Linked DNA regions of Homo sapiens: region 1 is linked to region 2. The links come from fine-mapping of genetic effects on gene expression. Tissue or cell type: thyroid. Region 2 holds a variant in brackets; the other region holds the start of a gene. All regions are shown on one strand. Distances are between the middles of the regions.

The links.
Region 1: it holds the start of COL15A1, and the variant in region 2 is fine-mapped to the expression of COL15A1 in thyroid (GTEx, PIP 0.95).

Annotation. Positions count from the first base shown.
Region 1 is chr9:98,938,742-98,949,011 of GRCh38, reverse strand. It overlaps COL15A1 (collagen type XV alpha 1 chain), which reads right to left and starts at 5,105. Exons shown (of 42, transcript NM_001855.5): 1 at 4,940-5,105; 2 at 4,762-4,850. The coding sequence starts at 4,950. It overlaps COL15A1-AS1 (COL15A1 antisense RNA 1), which reads left to right and starts at 4,360. Exons shown (of 1, transcript NR_198999.1): 1 at 4,360-8,127.
Region 2 is chr9:98,909,677-98,919,946 of GRCh38, reverse strand. It overlaps ADIPINT (adipocyte associated pyruvate carboxylase interacting lncRNA), which reads right to left and starts at 8,743. Exons shown (of 2, transcript NR_176918.1): 1 at 8,477-8,743. The variant T/A (reference allele first, on the strand shown) is at 5,092.

The sequences.
Region 1 (10,270 bases), 29 kb before region 2:
AAAGAAGGGAAAATAAAACCACAGCAAAGGGGTTTAGGAGACCTTCTGGGGATTATCCTATATCTTCATCTGGATTACATGTTTGCTCTGTGATACAAGATTGTACTGTACCTTTAGCATGCACTTTTCTGAATGGATGTTGTATTTCACAATAAAACAGTTTAAACATAAGCAAATAATTTGCAATCATCAACACTTTATTAGCAAGAGCAAATTACTTGTGACACCACCATCCCTACCTGGACAATAGCCCCCTTATCTTCTAAAATATTGGGTATTCCAATGACCCTGAAACTTTACCAGGAAAAGGAAGGATTGGTGTTGTCCTCCAGCTCAACCCTGACCATTGGAGGTACAAGAGGCCATGTGGGTGACACCCACTGACAAGTGTCTCTTTTTTTTTTTTTTTTTTTTTGAGACAGAGTCTCCCTCTGTTGCCAGGCTGGAGTGCAGTGGCGCGATCTTGGCTCACTGCAACCTCCGCCTCCCAGGTTCAAGCTATTCTCCTGCCTCAGCCTCCCAAGTAGCTGGGACTACAGGCGCCCGCCACCATGCCTGGCTAATTTTTTGTATTTTTAGTAGAGACAGGGTTTCACCGTGTTAGCTAGGATGGTCTCAATCTCCTGACCTAATGATCTGCCCGCCCCAGCCTCCCAAAGTGCTGGGATTACAGGTGTGAGCCACCGCGCCCGGCCGACAAGTGTGTCTTTAAACAGGATGGTGTAGAAGGATGGGATTGGCTGCACACAGGACATTCTGCATGGTAGATGAGAAGACTTCAGGAAAAATGGCATTACAGTTGTCTGTGGCCCTTTCTTTCTTCCTGTGAACTATGACCCCTTTGGGGCAGCTCTGTGCCCAAATCCTTTCTGTACCCAGCCAGCATGAGGGCCAGCACAGAATGGGTTTGTTGAACTAAACTATGTGAAATAATCAAACCTCAAACTAGAAAAATATTATTTTGTTTTGTTTCCCAACATTTTAAATTAGGACTACAGAGATGAGTGACTCTTGCCTCTCCACTTCGTAGATGGGAAAACAGGCTCAGAGTGGGAAAAGCAACTCATCTAAGTTCATGGAGGAAGTCAGTGAGTGGAACCCAGGTTTTCCAATACCTGAACTTGTGCTGTTTTAGGGCGTGCAGGATATCAGGAAGTTTACAAAGACCCACTTTTTAACAGATCAACTACCTGCAAAAAACCCATATGCATGTGTTCTACCCCTACCTGAGGAGCCCTGTCCTGGGCCCACAATGGCATTCAGGGATAGTAGGGAGAGTCGATCCAGAGACCTGGAGGTGCAGGCAGAACTCTGGACCCATTTTCTGAGAGAATCAATGCCCTAAGAGGCCAGCAGCTTTTAAGTTGTGAGCTGTGTGCCAGCTCTGTACCAGGCTGGCTAGGAACCCCACCTTGAAGCCCCACCAGATCTGGGGCCTAGATGCTCTGGGAAAATACATTCTTTTATTTAAGAAGCAGCTTTATTGAGGCATAGCTTACATTCCATAAAATTCACCCATTTTAAATGTATAGTTAGATTATTTTAGTAAATTTATAGAGTTGCACAACTACCACCACAATCCAGTTTTAGAACACTCCCCAAAAAGTTTCCTCATGCCCCTTTGCAGTCAATCTCTGCTTCTGTTTTCTGTCTCTGTGGTTCTGCCTTTACAGAAATCTCATATATAGGGACTCTTACAATGTATTGCTTTTTAATGTCTGGCTTCTTTTACTTAGCTTAATGGTATTAAGGTTTATCCATGTTGTTGTAGCATTGATCAATACTTCATTCCTTTTTATTGCTGAGTAGTATTCCATTAAATGGATACACCTCATTTGTTTATCTATTCACCAGCTAATGGTGAATTTAACTTTATTTCCAGTTTTGGTCATTATAAATAATGCTGCTATGAACATACATATGAGTTTTTGGGTGGCCATATGCTTTCCTTTCCCTTAAGTAGATACTTAGGAGTGGAAGTTCTAGATTGTAGGGTAAGTATATATTTAACATTTTAAGAAACTGCCAAATCGTTGGGAACATGTATTTCCGCTCATAACAGCCCACTTACAAACATGCTTTCAGAAGCCACCCCACTTAAGCATACAGCATAGTGGTTACAAGTACAGATTCTGGAGTCAGACCCTCTGGGCTCAAATTGTGCTTATATTACTGAAGGCTACATGCCCTTGGGCAAAAGACTGTGCCTCAGTTTCCTCATCTGTAAAAGGGGATAAGACATGGGGTTGTTGTGATGATTGACTGAGCTCATTCATGGCAGGGCACTTAAAACACTGCTGGTTCATAGTGCTATGAAGTCTTGGCAATTGTTTTTTATAGCCAGTTGGGCAGTGGTCCTATGGAAGGAACAGCACCAGCCCAGAAGTTCACAGACGTGAGAGGGCTATTATGGATCTACCCAGTTACAGTCATGCGGCCTTGAGGAAGTCACATCCCCTCTGTAAGACAGAGCCCAATTTACTTCTCAGCACTGCTGGGTGGTGATTCCAGGGACGTGGTGAAGGTGACATTGTGCTTTGAAGACTGCACAATGCCATGCAATGGACTCATGTTACAATTGTGACATTCAGATTGTGGGGCTCATTGGAGACCATGGAACCCCTAAAGCCTTCTCCATCCGTGAAGCTCTTCTAACTACACACTAGGATGGTTAAGAGCAAGGACTCTGGAGTCAGACTGTCTGGTTCAAATCCCACCCCAGCCACTTAGAAGTCTTGTGACTTTGGACCTCTGTTTCTTCATCTGAAAAACAGAGATAGTAACTGTTCTCAGTCCTCACCTCCTGGAGTGGTTGTAAGGATTGGATGAATGAAATATGAACATGTTCACACCTCCACCTGGATATACAAAGTGTTTTATAAGTATTAGGGATATTAAATTGCATTACAAATGCAGTTTGCAGGAGGATAGTTTACATTTTTAGGAATCGTTTCACATCCCCAAAGGGGCACTGAAAACCCATCAGTTGCAAATGGCCCTCCTTAGACCGTTCTCAGCTCCTGAAGGTTTGCTGGCCCTCCCTTTTTACATTATAAATGGGAATAGGGCTTCCTTTGTGTTAGAAACAACAGCCCTGACACTGAGGGATCCCAGAGACACACACAGGAGGAGAAAGAAACACCAAAGTTCCTATCCCCAGATCCATCTTCCTTTTGGGAAACTGGAAGTTGCAGCAAAGTTCACAAAAGACCATGGAACCCAAAGTTGGCCTCTGCCACTGAGTTGGCAGGGCCCTATATCATATGCAAAATTGCAACTTTCTGACATGAGCCATGGGGCTGAGAAGCTAAAACTATACTCCAGCTGCCCTTTGATCTGCAATAAATGCCAGGCTGGACACTCTGGCAGGAAAAGCTATCATCGGATTTGGGTCTTGTTGCCCAGGAGACAATGGGCTGTCTTGGGCTTCTTCAGGCAAACAAAGAGTTAACCAAGGCCACCTTCTCAATCCCGTTTCCTTTGGGCCGACTAGAGGTTGTTTCCTAGACTTTCTGTTCCCTTATTCAATTGAAGATGTGTACTAATCCCCCAAATTCAAAGGGGAGGGGGTCAGAAGCTATAGAAAGCATGGCTCTTCTGCAAAACTGCATGGAGAAAGAGCTGAGCAAGGGCAAGAGCCTACAGACCTGGATTCAAGTCCTGGCTTTTGGACTGGCCACTTTCTAAGCTTCTCTCAACCTCAATGTTATAAAAATACCTGCATTGCGATGGGATTAATAGAAGCCCAAACCTCAGCACCGTGCAATATACCCTTGTAAAAAACCACACATGACCACTCCCTGAATCTAAAATAAAAATAAAAATACTTGCATTGCTTTCCAACACATAGTTACTGCAAGAATCAAGCAGTAATTTCTATCACTTATTTTGTGCCTAGTATATACTGGAATCATGGGAAGCACATTATTTCTAATTTCTCTAATATTCACAACATTTCTAGGAAGGTAAAATGGTCTAATTAATCGCCTTTTTCAGATGGGGAAACTGAGGCACAGAGCGATGAAATCCATTGCCCAAGATCACTCAGCCAGCCACAGTTCAAACCCAGGCAGTCTGACCTTAACCGAGGCCCATTTTAACTTAGGTCTACTTTAACTTATATCTTACTATTCAGCCAACCGCCTGAGTTCTGCTGGAGAAACTGAGGCCCGGGGAACGGAAGGGATCAGATCTCTGGCTTCCAGGCCACAGCTCTTTCCACCACCGGTGGAGCCACTGCCCATGATAGACGTGACCGCTTAGGTAACTCAGAGCTGGGTTAAGCAACCGAGCAATTCAGTTCCGTTATTTCTTGAGCAGCAAAAGCCCCAGATGTCCCTCCCGGTGTTCATGCTTCGCACCTGTGTGCGGAGAGGCACCAGACCTGCCCTTACCAGAAGCCAGCCAGCACGCACAACCTAAGCTGCTGGCGCTGGGTGCGCTGAGGCTGTTGGCGCTGGCGCTGGCGCTGTTTCTGAAGTCCCTCTCTGCCTAAGATTGGAGGCTCCGCACCCAGCTCAGACATCTCGGGTGCCCAGACAACGCTCCAACCGCCCCAGCTGCCCAGGGATCCCATTCACAGCTATAACCCCTGCACTGCCAGGAGGTAGCCGCCCGCGGGACCGCCAGTGCGCACTGAGTGGCAAGACTCCCTTTTATGTCCAGGAATGAGGCACGCATCGCAGCCGCGTCCGCCGCCAAAACCGACTTCCCCCACGGGCGCGGAGGCAGCCGGTGCCACCCTCCGACCGGGTTGCTTACCTGTCGCACCGCGGGTCTGGGTGACAGCAGGGAGGGGCGTGGAGACCGAGAGCAGCATCAGCAGACACCAGCACTGCCCGTTGTTCCTCCTGCAAGATGTGCCCGAGGGAGAAAAGGTGAGGCGGGCAAGAGTATTGGAGGGGCCCGGGACGCGAGGAAGCAGAGAAGCGGGTCTTACCTTGGTGCCATCTCGCGGGTCTGCGGAGCCCCGGAAGGCGCGCGGCTAGTCGAGCAGAGCGTTGGAGCTTAGCGGAGGACGAAGGGTCGCTGAGCGCTGGCCGCCGCGCTCGCCCTTCCTGCAGGGAACAAAGGCGGCGCTCGGCAGCGGCGGCGGCGGGCAGAATCCCGGCTCCCGGCCCGCGCCCCGAGTCACCCGCGCTCTGAAACCCGACTCCGCCGCGCCCTGCGCTCCCCCGCGCGCTGCGCACTCACGCCCGGGGGATACCGGCCGCCCCGGCCGCCTCCCCACGCCCCTTTCCCCCTCGACGGACGTGCGCTCGCCTCTGCTGCCTCCACCCGCGGCTGCCTTATGTAACCTGCGAGGAAAGCCCCGCGCCCGCGTTCGTTGGGGCAAGCGGGATGGGCTCCCTCCCGCCCTTAAGTCTGTCCTGTCGGGGCTGACCCGCAAGAAAGCACTCTTTCACAGCCGCTGAGGGAATCCTCTCCACAGCCCAGGAAGGCTGGAATCAGTGATTTCCTTATATGATGGACAAGGAGACTGAGGCTCAGAGAGGTGGAGCGTATGTCCCAAAGTCCCAAGCTGCACTGAGCTCCTAGATGCTGTGACCCACCCTGCACGCCTGACACATGGACCGACTTGAATGCCCAGGAGTGGACCTGCCTGGGGGCCATAAGGGATACATACAACTAAATGCAGCAGAGATAATCCTAATAAAAGTTTTTAATGTACTGGATTCCAGGGCTTTCCTCCCTATGTATACCTTGCCTGCCCCCTTCATCAGAATGTAAGCTCCAGGAGGGCTTATCTGTGCTTTGTTCCCTGCCTAAAACAGCTCAGGTAGTAGGAGATGCCAATAAACGCTGGATGAATGAAGGAGCACAGTCTTGGGTGAGGCATCACACCAGGCCCTGTGATGAGATGTGGGGGTCATGAACCAGGCTCTGCCTCCGAAAGCCCTCAGTGGGAGTGAGGCGGTTCAGGGCAGACTAACCCATCTGTGCAGAGCTTATCGCAGGGCACTGGGTAAACCCTCAATGGTCGCTTTTTATTAAGATTACCACCCGGCACATAGTGTGAGATCTTGGAGTGAGAAGAGGCACCGCTGAAGTTGGCTGAGACCTGGACAGCTCTGAAGCCAGGTAAACACTAGAAACCTCTCTTCCTGAAGCACCAAGTAGCCACAGTGGGCCGTGGCTCTGTGGTCAGTTCCTGTGTTTGATTCAGTTCCACTCTAGAGGATGGGTCACCTCTTGCCAAGTGAGTTAGCCTTGCAGAGGAGATGGCATGGGAATGGATATAAGCAACTAATGCTTACTTGGTGTGGATTATGTCCCAAGCCCTCTGCTAAATGCTTTAGCTGTGTTATCTCATTTAATACCCACAACAGCCATGGAAAGGTGATACTGTCATGATCCCCATTTCATAGATAAGAAAGCTGAGGTTCAAAACATTCCAAGGCTAATGAATGGCAGATGCAACACCCATGCTCCTCCCCACTCAGCCATGCTGCCTGCCAGTAAGCAAGAAGATTAGACTCACTCTCCACCCTCAAGAGCAAAATCGCAGTGGAGACACAGAGCACTCGGATATGAAAGGGTTCATGCCAGCCTGGGCGGTGAGGGCTCAGAGGAGGGATGGTTGGCCTGGAGATCAGGAGTCTGGGTTCCAGTCCAATGCTGGCCCTGGCTGCAGGGTGAAGTTGGGCAAATCTTGCCCTTGGTCTGATTTTTTATTTCTCCACCTGGATAATGGACACAACTACCTTGAATTGAATGGTGGCTGTGAGTCCCTTGATGGGACCACCTACTGGTACACCACAGTGCTCTCTGTCCATTGGATTTTGGCTTCTATTATTAGAGGTTGTGGATATTCTCATCGGGGCTGCGGCCTGTGGAGGGGGACAACTGGCAAGACAGAGGGGGGACCCTAGATCAACCTCTTAAGGGATTGAGGCTCCAGTAGCCAAAGCAGCTCGAGAACCAGGTTGGCCTCATGTGGAGCTAACACATAAGGCGAACTGCATCCCGACAAAATTGTCCACTTGAGGCCTCTTTCCTAATCTGTTCACATTCCCTGTGAATGTAAATTCTCTCCCACTTGCAGCCACTCTGTGATGGGCCTAACCTTATTTTATTTTGATTCACTAACCATAGGGAATTTGCTTTCATAATTCTATATTTCTCTATTGTTTGTAAAGTACCACATTAACTAGGAATATAATTGACTTTCTTAGAACTATATTTCTATACTGCTTAGAAAAACCACATCAGTTATGGCTACATAGTAGATCTAGGGTTCTGTTTGACAGTTTTAAAACCAGAGATTGTGAACTGGCAGCCATAGGCTCAATTTTGTTTCATTTTTGATTTTGGTTTTTGTTTTTGTTTGAGATGGAGTGTCGCTCTGTCACCCAGGATGGAGTGCCGCTCTGTCACCCAGGATGGAGTGCAATGGTGGCTCACTGCAACTTCCGCCTCCCGGGTTCAAGTGATTCTCCTCTTCAGCCTTCCAAGTAGCTGGGACTATAGGCGCCCATCACCACACTCGGCTAATTTTTGTATTTTTAGTAGAGACGGGGTTTCACCATGTTGGCCAGGCTGGTCTCAAACTCCTGACCTCAAGTTGATCCACCCATCTCAGCCTTCTAAAGTGCTGGGATTAAAGGCATAAGCCACCATGCCCAGCCTTCAATTTTGCCCATAGATATGTTTTATCTGGTCTGCTGGGTGTCAACCTCCAAATTAAATTGGCTAGCAATATTTGATAATTAGAGAATTGCACAGTAAAATTGAGACTTCTGGATTCTTTTTGAAATTTTGGAAAACCTGGCGACATAAGGCCTGCATTCTCTGTGCCAACAATTGATTGGCATTGAATAGGGGCTGCTGCCTTCAGCTAAGGCAGTACTGTCCAGTTTGCCGTAGTTCCCACCACCCCATATTGTCCCCAAAACCAAAGCTAAGAATCAATTGCCCCTATCACAGTTGCACTCTGCCTTTGCATATAAGAAAAAATGGAATAGGTTGAATGCTCATGTTCCTGTTAAAAATGGGTAAACAGAAGATATATGGGGAGAAGAACATGTTTAAAGAAAGATGGGGAAAAACATATTTCTACTTGTTTAATATACAAATAAAGTGTGTACATTGAAAAAAATAAAAATGAAGGTGCCATTATGAAACAAACCTGGCCTCCTCAGTTACATATATAACATGAAGGGTGAAGACTTGATTGTGATCCAATTTATCAGTCCAAGATACATATGCATAAGGCAACAGATTCCTTTCTACTCTTGCAGGGAAGTCCTATGTGCACATTTCATATTTTGTTGGTTCTCTGTAACTGATGATACCCAATTCACTGGAATCTAAAAATGAAGTTTCCCAAAGCACACTTCTCATCTACAAATGACTGGAAATAGACTCGTGTTAAGGTTGTTGATTTTGCACCTATTTCTCCTGGGAAGCCAGACCATGTTCATATTCAAGAAGGGCTCTCAGTTTGCAGCTTGTCCCTGAACTCAGGCAGATGAAGAACAGGGAGGGTCTCAGGCCTGGGAGCTGAAGTGGGGGCCAAATGGTCCCAGCTGTGGGTGTGGGAGGGATGGGGCAGGAAGCCAAGCAAGACATTTTACCTCCTGCCAGACAGTGTTTTTAGGGCTTAAGTGATTTCCTTCCATTCAATGTTAAGTTGTAGAAATAGCCAAGAGGAAGCTTCGTGTCATACCCAAGCTGATCTAAATTGTTTACCACCGTTCAGTGTAATCTGTGAGATTGGGATGTGTGAAGACTGGGGATCTTATGTCCCAACTCTTACAGAACTGGACTAAATTAATAGGCTGTTCCATTTTCCCATAATCTACCCAATGTCCCTGATAACTCAATATCCAAAAGCATTCTCCATACTGTCTCAAGCAGCTGGAAGGGGCACAAAAATCTGTGGAAATCATCTAAAACTTTGGTTTCTGAAGAAGTTACCAAGAATATAGTGCATGTCATTCTAGACCTCAGTTTATTCACTACATGGGTACAATGCCTCCCTTGTGGAGTTGTGATGAGAACGTCTACAGGAGGTAGTTAGAGCTTGCATATCATCTGATTTAATGTGCAGAAAAAGTGCAATAGATTTAACTAGCTAACTAGAATAGAATTTACTAGAATAACTAAAGAGATAGCTGCCTTTGGGATAACCAAGAGAAAATAATGACTGTTTAAGCCCACAACTACCTTCCAAGGAGGACTCATTTGTTCTGCTGAGCATCTTGATGTGTTTGGATATGCAAAGAGGGGCCACAGGCTGAGACAAGAGTCATTGGTTCAACATAAGAGAAAATGATGGATTTGAAAATCTGACAATCCAAGAGGAAAAGAAAAAGGAGGGAGAATGTATCAGACACCTTTTATGTGCCACTGCAACATCCTGTCCAGATCCCCTCCATCTTGATCATTTATGTGCAGGGTGGCTGTCTTCCAACTGCCAGCACCTGCATCCCTTCACCTGAGCGCTTTCTCTGGCCCCTGGAGCCTGCTCTGCCCACAAGCACAGAAGACCAGAAGTGTTGGGAAATTAATGGAGCAACCCCTTCCCCAAGCAGCTCTCAATCAGTGATGGTCAGGAGCTGGTGGATGAGAATCTCAGCCCCCTTACCCAGCTGGTGGGAACACCTAGGCAGGCACACATTCTATACTTCTATCCAGAGTTTCCACAGGACTGAGCTCCGGTTTCCCACAGGGGTATTGTGCACTCACTCTTTATTGGCCACCTCATTTCCCCACTCCCCTTCCAGTGCTTCTTAAGAAAACTGACCAAGTGAACTGCTGGCAGTGGAATCCTTGCCTCTGAGTCTTTTGCTGCGGGAATCCAAATTAAGATAGCTGCTTGAAATTCTTTTAGTCTCACCCGTCTCCAGGGTCTCTGGCCACTTGTTCTAACAGCAGTCCCCTTTGTGGAGACCAACTCTACCTGGACTCTCACCAACTTCAGGCAGATACAACTCACAGCCCCTGGCCTCATGTCCACATTGATCACCTTTCACTTCCACCCCAGGGCTTCCCTGTTGATGCTAAGGCATGACATCCTCAGCACTATCCTTAGTGCCTGCAATGAGCAACCTGGAAGTACAGTGCAAATAACACCCTGTGGGGCAAAATTTCAGCCAATGGAAGCCAGTAGATGTATTTTTCTCCCTTCCTCTTCCAGATGCACTGTGCCAAGAAAGTAATTTATAAGGCATCTCAGAAGATGGTCACACAATGCTTGCAGAGCAGTCCGTCATGTCTATTGCCTCTTATTGGGCTCTTCCTCCTACCTCGCCTCCCTTTCCTTTTC
Region 2 (10,270 bases):
CTGTGCCTTTTCCAGACAAATGGCCTTCCCTCCTGCTGGATGGCCCTGGGGAAGGGCCTGAGTAGCCACAGCCACAAAGATTCAGGCACCTGCAGGGCCTTCAAACACAGGCAAATGCATGGGGTAACTTCTCTCACTTGGTTTCCGAAGGAGAAAAGGTCTACCCAGCATCACCGTCCACTTCCACACCTCTCCATTAGCGTAACATGTATCTACCAGACATAAGTCAAGCACCTAGTGCATACAGAGATCCAGCTAACCTGTGTCACAGGCCTCAGGGGGCCTGGATTGGGCCATTGGAAGGGCAGGAGAGCTCTGTATACAGTGAGACACTTTTTTTTTTTCTTTGAGACACAGCCTTGCTCTGTTGCCAGGCTGGAGTGCAGTGGCGCGATCTCAGCTTACTGCAACCTCTGCCTCCTGGGTTCAAGCGATTCCCTTGCCTCGGCCTCCCGAGTAGCTGGGACTATAGGCATGCACCATCACACCAGGCTCATTTTTTGTATTTTAGTAGAGACAGGGTTTCACCATGTTGGCCAGGATGGTCTCGATCTCCTGACCTCGTGATCAGCCCGCCTCGGCCTCCCAAAGTGCTGGGATTACAAGCAGTGAGACCCTTTTATTATTCCTCCTACGTGTAGTACTGAGACCCCAACATTTTCTCTACCAAATTCCCTTCCCTGAATCATGATGAGTTTTGCAGTATCCAAAGCTATACAACTGAGCTTTTAAAAGACTATTTATTTGCTAGTAGTTGAGGGTTGGAGCTGTGGAGTCAGACTGCTGGGTATGTGGTCTTGGGCACAAAGCTTAACATAGTGGCTCTCAAAGTGTGGTCCCTGATCCGGCAGTATCAGCATCCAATTTTCAGGCCCCACACCAAACCTATTGAATCAGAATCACGGGGTGGGACTCAGCATTTCATATTTTAACCAGCCCTTCAGGTGATTCTGATGCACCTTGGCTGTTAAAGAGCTTACCTGTTATCCAGATTTCATATCCTGCTTCTGCCATTTGCTACCTGTTACTTAAGATCTCTGGGTTTCAGTTTCCTCATCTATAAAATGGGAATGATCATGGTACTAGCTTCCACAAGGCTCTTGTTCCAATTAATAGAATGAGCCATGTAAACTACTTAGGATGTACTTATTCATCATTAATTACATATAAATGTGTTTATGTGTGTGTGTGTGTGTGTGTGTGTGTGTGTGTGTGTGTATGTGAATTTCCCTTGCCTTAGGTGTTTACGAAGATTCATGGTCATGTGTAATAGTTGTATAACACGTCTTAAAATTTTACGAAGAAACTTGTATATGACGGCCCTAATCATTTTCATAACAAGCAAGGTAGGTGTTAGGTATTATTATCTTCATTGTACACATGGAAAACAGGGGCCCAGAGCATAACATTTTCTCAGGGTCACAGTGAGACAGTTATGAGTCTAGAATATAAACCACTTCTGCCTTGAACATTTGTGTCTATTCATTACATCATGAGTTCTCAGAGTGCAGGCCTGCAATCTTGGTTGACACAGATAAAATTGTTTTAATTTAGGTACCTGTATTTGTCCACTATGGGAAAAAAGATATGGTTAATGGCGATGCTGTTAGTTAAATATAAAGTTCTTGGCACAACCCAGCTTGGCATGTGACTTACCGCTGCTTCTTGCAATTCCTCATTCCAAACAGGGAGGCTGTTTGGTGCAACAGGCACTGGAATGGAAAAGGTCAACCCAGCTCCAACTTCTGACTCCAACATTTCTTATCTGAGTGTGTGACCTTGAACAAGGTACTTTGCCTCTTAGAACTTCCTTTTCTCCTTTTGTAAAATGGGGTACTATCCCTCCCCCACCCAGCTCCCAGAACAGCCCTGGGTCTCAAGTTGAATGATGTGGAAGATGTGGAAGCACTTTGCAAATCATAAAGTACATGTACAATGATGGGATTGGAAGGAAGAGTTTGCTGAAGATGAATTCTGCTGGCCTCTGCCAGCTCTAAACGGCTCTGTGGTCTGGCAAGGCCAAGGCAATGTGCAGCTGGTGGGAGGTCGGTGGGGACTGGTGGAAAGCTAGTCAAGATGTGTGGCCTGACCCTTGCTGGGGAGTGGCCTGCCAGGACAGGGGGATGTCAGAGACCCTTCCAGGGAACCCCCAGTCATATGCCATCAGCTCGGGACAAGCCACTGCTGCCCTGGAGGCCCTCTGGAGTCAGACCCAAGAAGTCCACGCAAAGTGAAACAAGTTCTCGTCCTGGCTACCAGTTCCCAAGATGACACTGGGCAGGACCCTCACTTCTCTAGGCCTTTGTTTTACAAAACAAAGTGGCATGTGCCATCTCTCAAGAGCAAAGAAAAACAAAACAAAACAAAACAAAATCAATAAAAAATTAAAAATGGCATATCCTCAACTATTCCACCAACCCTTTTATTATTCCTCCTAAGTGTAGTACTTAGATCTCAACATTTTCTCTACTAAATTATCTTCCCTGAATAATGATGAGTTTTGCTGTGTTCAAAGCTAAATAACTGAGCTTTCAGAGGACTATTTGCTAGTAGCTGGGGGTTGGAGCTGTGGAGTCAGGCTGCTGGGTGTGTGAACTCGGGCACAGTGCTTAACCCCTTTGGCACTTAGTGTCTCCATCTGCAAAATAGGACTCATAAACGTACCCATCTTACAGGATCGAAGATCAGTGAGATGGTGTGTGAAGGGCTTCACCTTGCTTCTAGCAGCTAAGTTCAGTGGGAAGCTATCACTGTCACCAGCAACACCAGGGTACAGAGGGACCAGCTGGAGCTGATTTCAGAGAAAAGTCAAGACACCGGATACTTTTACGAGCCCGTGAGCCCTCACACAGGGGCTATATACTGTTTCTTTTCAGCTTTTGAAAGAACCGGGAATAGTCTGAGCACCCCAAGTCCAGGGACCCCAGCCTGGGAACCTCTGGCCCAGAGAATCATAAAGTTGCTTCCATCTCTGACATTCAAGGTCTCAGAACATTTCAGCTGTGCTGAGGGTCAGCCAAGCCTCTTAAAAGAAACCCGCGTGGTCAGCAGCAGCTGGGCCTGCAGTGAAGCCAAGGTAGACCACAGGAGGAGCTGCCGCAGCCCAGAGCCCCGCCTCCCAGGGCCAGGGCCCCTGCAGAAGAGTCGCACATCAGAGGAAAGCTCACAGCCTCCTGTTCAGTGCATCCGGGAACTAAATCTCCACGCCCCCTCCCACCTCTCTGATCTGAAAAAGGCCAGGAGGGAAGGAAATGGTTATTTCAAAGGCTGGACGATCCCCCTTTGCAGACAGGGTCAGAGTCTGAGTCTTGAGCTCTCCAAGGAACTACTGAAAACCAGAACTTTGTCTGCTTCCTTTTCTTCATTTCTCCTTTCCTTTCTTTGCAGTCCTGTTCTAAATGTAGATCTGTAATCCCGGCTACTCGGGAGACTGAGATGGGTGGATTGCTTGAGGCCAGAAGTTCAAGGCCAGCCTGGGCACCATAGCAAGATCCTTGACTCTAAAAAAAATTAAAAATAAAATTATGCAGGCATGGTGGCATGCACCTATAGTCCCAGCTACTAGAGAGGCTGAGGCAGAAGGATTGCTTGAGCCCAGGAGTTTGAGGCTGCAGTGAGCTATGATCACACCCCTGCACTCCAGCCTGGGTGACAATCCAACGTGATCATCATATAAATGATGATAAATAAATACTTATTTATTGATAAAAATAAATAAGTAAGTAAATAAGATCTTGGAGGCCATGATTCAGGCTGTCAAGGAACAGAAACCTAACCATCAACGGGAGGGAAAAACCTCAGGATCTCGGTGTTGTAGGAGTGATCTCGGGGTAAACCACACACTAGTGGAGTCTCCTACAGAAAAAGCCGATATGATGGGAATGATGCAGAATCCCTCACCTCTGTGGATCCTTCGTGCCCATTCTCTGTCTGGCTCCTCACACCAAGCCCTAGAGACATCCAAGGCAGAGCTTCCTATTCCCATTACACAGAGGAAGAAACTGAAAGCCAGGAAGAAGATGATAATATGAAAAACCATAGCTAACTTTCATTGAGCACTCACTAATTTGCCAGGTAAGGCACTAAGAACTTTGCATGCATTATCTCATTTAATCCACACAAGTGCCCTAATGAGGTAGGCATTATTGCTCTTCCCATTTTACAGATAAGGAAATTAAGGCAGATCTGCCAGATGTCCAAGCCCACACTCATAATCACTGGCTACACCTGCCCCTGCCCAAGAACCACACGGTGAGACAGTGGAAGGCTCAGGAGCCAAGCCCGGGTCTTCTAACTCCAGGTTGAGTGCTCTTTCCCTGCTGCCGTTCTGCTTCCTTGTGGTGAGTGGAAGGACGGCTATTCTAATAATCAGATCTATATAAAAAAGGAACAGGTTGTGTGGGAGGGATTGAGAACCCCATCACTGAGAGGCATCCTAGCCAAAGCGAGATGATCGCTTGGTGGAGTGCTATGGAGGTAATGGGGGTGGGGCTTAAGGCTCCTTCCAGACATGGGGAGGCAATGAAATCCATTATAGTTGCCAAGAAAACCTCCAGAAAGATGTCTAGGTCCCATCTTTTCTTTCTTCTCTCATGTCATTCATTCCTTCTCTTAATCAACAACTCATTGAGAGCCCACACTGTGCCAGATCCCATGCTATGTAACAAAGGACCAGACAGACATGGGCCCTACCATCCAGAACATATGCTTCAGTGACCTTTATCCCCAGCGAGCCTAAATAGGACTCCTCTGCCAACCAAGATATCCCATCTCTAGACCATGGCTCCTTCTGTTGACTTTCCACCAACTCCTCCTTGATGCTGAAACCAAAGCGGTGCAAATACCACCTTGGAACTCTTAACACGCTGTTGCTGGGAATGTGAATTAGCACAGCCACTATGGCAAACAAAATGGAGGTTTCTCAGAAAATTATAAATAGAACTACCCCCTGACCCAGCAATCCCACTACTGGGTATTTATCCAAAAGAAAGGAATTCAAGTGTACCAAAGGGACACCTGCACTCCCATGTTTCTTGCAGCACTATTCACAATAGCTAAGATATGAAATTAACCTAAGTGTCCATCAATAGG[T/A]GGATGAATAAAGAAAATGTGGTATGGATACACAATAAAATACTCTTCAGCCATACAAATGAATGAGATGTCATTCGCAGCAACAGGGATGGAACTGGAGGTCATTATGTTAAGTGAAAATGCCAGGCACAGAAAGACAGATACCGCGTGTTCTCACTCATACGTGGGAGCTAAAAACTTGATCTCATGGGCATAGAGAATAGAATAATTGATACCAGAGACTGGGAAGGGTGGGTAGGTGGGTGGGAGGAGGATAATGAAGAGAAGGTGATTAATGCGTACAAACATACAGTTAGATAGAAAAAATAAGTTCTAATGTTTGATAGCAGACTAGGATGACTATACTTAACAACAAACAATATTTTGTATCTTTCAAAGTAACTAAAAGAGAGGACTTGAAATGATACCAACACATAGAAATAAATGATAAATACTCAAGGTGACGGATACCTCAAATACCCTTACTTGACCATTACACATTCCATGCATAAAACACTTACATGTGCCTTATAAATGTGTTTAACATTACATATCAATAAAAGAAATAAAAATTCATCATAGTTTTAAAATTATAATTAGACTGACGGTTTAAAGAAAAACAAATTTGGAAGATTAAAATGGATTCAATGAACCTGGCCTAACATAATTAGCACAGTTGATCTTTTGTATGTGTATATGGAGTCCTTATTAAAACATTGACATATTCTACAAAGAATAACAAAAATAAAAGGTGATTTCAAGACTTTTGGGGAAAAAAATGCCACTTAGTCTAAGACGCCTTCTCTGGTATTCCTAGCAGAAGTGCTTCTCCTTCTGCCTGGCTCCGTGACCCCTGCAGGTGCCTTCCCTATCTCACAGGCAGTTGGGTTGATCTGCACTGTATTTCACGTAGACGTTGGGTGCAGGGGATGTTCTGCAGGACCACAAGCTCACGGACTGCAGGGACTGTGTCCAATTCTGGTATCCAAATGCCAGGCATCCCAGCACAGATAAGATGCTCATTCATTCATTCATTCATTCAACAAATATGTATTGAGCAGTTGTGAAGTGTCGGGCCCTGTTCGGCCACTGGGTTTCCAATAGCACACAAGGCAGGCAAAAAGCCTGCCCTGGTTTATATTCCAGTGGGAACTACTAGATGAACAAGCCAATGACTAAATGAATATGCATTGAATCCTGAAAACCCTTTTTGAGACCCTACACTTAGAAAAAGGTGCATTTTTGGACTGTTTGCATATCCACCGGTCAAATGTTTATCTACACTAAGTGAGCTCTTGAAGGAAGCCTACCTTCCTCTGTGGCATGAGTGTTTAAAAATTGCCGGAAAGGGATCGTGTCAGAATTAGTCTTCCCTGCTTTGGGAATCCTGAGCTATTGAGATGTTAGCCAAAGGCTTGAATAAAATAAAATAAACTAAGCTTTAGAGTCAGAGAAATAATTCAATTTCAGGAAACACCAGGCCCAGGGACAGTAATAACAAAAATAATCACAGCAAACATTTACACAGCACATACTATGTGCCAGACCCAGGAGAATCTCTGGGTTCCCAACAGACGACAAGGCTATGTCAGAAGGAAGGAGAGGCCATGAGGGGGTTGACCCTGACTAGCGCCATCCCCTGGGATCGGGCCGTTGTTCACTAGGGCTCTAACTGTCCCATGATCCACAGCAAGCTTTGAGGCCCAGTGCATTTGAATTTCCCAGGAATTCAATGGCAGAAAAGACAAAATGTCCCAAGCAAAAGGACATTTACCTCCCTAAAACAGAAAAACTGTGCTCAGGGAAGGAAATTCCTTGGAATAATGGAAGCATCTTTACTCCCTGAAAAGAAGGTTGGAATGCACATTTATTGAGCTTTTACGATATGCCAGGCACTGTGCTTGGATTTGGTTTACACTGTCATTTACTCACTGCTGGGTACTATTTTAATGTGGAGCTATAGCCAGGGATGAAATAGACACTGTCAGTCCCCAGCGCTGACATGCAGTCAGGATGTATCTCTCCTCCTCCCTCCCCTTCTTCTCCTCTTCCTTCGCTTCCTCCTCTCCCTCTCCCTCCTCTACCTTCTTCTCCTCTTCCTCTTCCTGATGTATTCCCCACTTCTCTCATCAACATGTACATGTATTCATGCCATAAACACCCACAGAGCATCCACTACATGCCAGGCACTGTGCCTGACATTGAGGGTGAGGAAGGGAGCAAGATAAACACCAAGGGGCCCATGGTTCATCAGCCCAGGTGCCCAGGCTGGAAACATGAACACCACCTGCAACTTCAGACTTCCTCAGCCCCTTCATGGTTGTTCAACGAGTCCTGCAATTAGACCCTTTCCCTCCATCTCCACTGCCAAAGCCTTAGCCCAGATCTTCACCCTCCCTCACTATGGTCACCATCCAGCTCCCTCAGCCTCCCTCTGGTGTTGCCTTCTCCAGCTCTTTCTCTGCAATGCAGCCAGAGGGACTTCTGTAGAACACATCTAGATCTGTTTGCTCCCTTACTCAGAGCCTTACGTGGCTACCCTCAGGAGAAAGTCCAAGCTCCCTGACCAGGTATTCAAGGCCCATCCTGACCCCTCTTTTTTTTTTCTGTCTCTCTTTTGGGGACTGAATTTTGCTCTTGTTACCCAGGATGGAGAGCAATGGCGCAATCTCAGCTCACTGCAACCTCTGCCTCCTGGGTTCAGGCGATTCTTCTGCCTCAGCCTCCTGAGTAGCTAGGATTATAGGTGCCTGCCACCACACCCAGCTAATTTTTGTATTATTAGTAGAAACGGGGTTTCACCATGTTGGCCAGGCTGGTCTCAAACTCCCGATCTCAGGTGATCCACCCACCTCGGCCTCCCAAAGTGCTGGGATTACAGGCTTTAGTCACCATGCCTGGCCCATCCTGACCCCTCTTGCTCCAGTAGGGTTGGACTGGCAGGAGATGAGCTATGGATGGTGAAGCAGTTGGTTCCCAACCAGCCACTGACTCCTTATCAGCGAGGTACACATGCACACAGACCCCCGTACCCACCCAGAGACACACGGGCACAAACACACACACTCAGGTGCACCCTGGGGTATAAACAAGCAAGTCCATTTATGCTGACACACATGCATGTAGACATAGCAGCCAGATTACCAAACCGAAACACAAGATGACCAGTTACATTTGAATTTCAGATGAATAACATGTTTTTAGTATAATTATGTTCCAAATGCTGCATGGATAAATTTATACTAAAAAATAATTTGATGCTCATCTGAAGTTCAGATTAAATTGAGCATCCTGTATTTTATCTAGTGACTCTACAAACAGAGAACAGCTAACACAAGCACCAACCCTACACATACATATTACACAGCTTACACACTTATACATGTTACATACTTATACTACTTACACGGGCAATTCACGTGTGAACGTGCGCCTCACACTGTCGTGTATTCTAGACTAATGGGCATCTCACTGCCCACGACCAAACCGGAACATTGGCCAGCTGCAGAAAGCTCTTCAGGGAAACATTTATTCCGTGAATAAATGCCTAATTAACAGGAATTCCTGGACATCCAGCTCCTAGAATGTTGTGTGCCCAAAGTAATCCCTGCGGAAACTGGGCTTTCACTAAGCACAATGCCCTGAGTGGATGGCAGCAGGGAGAAGGGTCTATGGGGCTGAGCCTCTCATTCCCTCCTGTTCTTTTCACAGATTTCCAGAGCAGAGTTCAGGGCCTATAAACTCCCTTTCCAAATAAGACCTCCTTGTCCCAGCTGGAAGCCTGCCTAGGATCATGAGAAAGTCACAGAATTTAAAGCCAGACAGAAATATGTTCACAAATTCGACTTCCACATATCTGCGCTGTGTCCTTGAGCAAGTCACTTGCCCTCTCTGTAGAATGGAAATGTTCCACTAATAAACCAACTCCTTTGGGTTACAAGTGTTACTAAATAAGATAATGTATGTGGACGACGTTTTTCAGAGTTTTGGATAAAAACTAGCTCCTAGGGTTGTAAGTGACGCACAGAAGAGGAGAATGTGATAAAACTTTGGGACAACTAAAATCAGGCATTAGTGTCAATTAAGTACTGCAAAGTCACATCCTAAGTAAATTAGGTTCTAAACTCAGCACATACAGGGAAAATGCTTATGTCCAAAACACTCTGAAAGCCTTTTAGGATTGTGTACACAGCGTTGTACAATGGCAAACAAGAATACTTACGCACACTGGAAATTCAGGACCTCTGACATAGACCGAAGGGAGAAACAAAAGGAACTTCTTCTATGCAAATGTCTGGGCATATTCTGATTTTAAAATGGCCAGCAAATCCCTAGTGATTAATGGCAAGAGTGGAGAATACTGAAACTTCTTCTTGCCTGCAGGGTTTCCTCTATTATTTTAAAACACTGAGCCTCTATGTAGTCAACATTAATGCTTGTTCCTCAGTTTTTCTGGTTATTTTCCACCTGAGCACACAATAGGATTGTATGTCCCTTCCTTTGGCCTGTGAAATGGGAAGTGGTGTGTTACCACCAGGCAGAAGCATTCTAGTGCTGCTAAGAGATTCTTCATCTTCTCCTCCCCCTGCTGCAGTGACCCACAGCATTCCAGGTGGTGAACCTTGAGTATCTAAGACAGGTCAGTGTGAACGATGACCCCACAAACCTACAATGAATGTGGAGCATGAGTGAGAAGTGAGCCTTTGCTATTTTAAGCCATGCATATTTAAGAGTTGTTTATTACTGAAGCAAAATCCAGCCTATCCTGACTAATACACTTTAACATTTTAGTACATATTAATAGATTTGTTTGTTGTTGTGAAGCTTTTTTTTTTTTTTTTAAAGACAGAGTCTAGCTCTGTCACCCAGGCTGGAGGGCAGTGGCACAATCACAGCTCACTATAGCCTTGACCTCCTAGGCCCAAGTGATCCTCCCACCTCAGCCTCCTGAGTAGCTGGGACCACAGGCATGTGCCACCATGCTCAGCTAATTTTGTTTGTTTGTTTGTTTGTTTGTAGAGAAGGAGGTCTCACTATGTTGCCTAGGTTGGCCTCAAACTCCTGAGCTCAACGGACCCTCCTGCCTCAGCTTCCCAAAGAGCTGGGAGTGAGCCATATCGCCCATCCAGAGGGGAGGAAATCCTAAAATTACCTTGTGATAAATGCTTGAGGTGTTGGATACGCCATTTACCCTGATGTG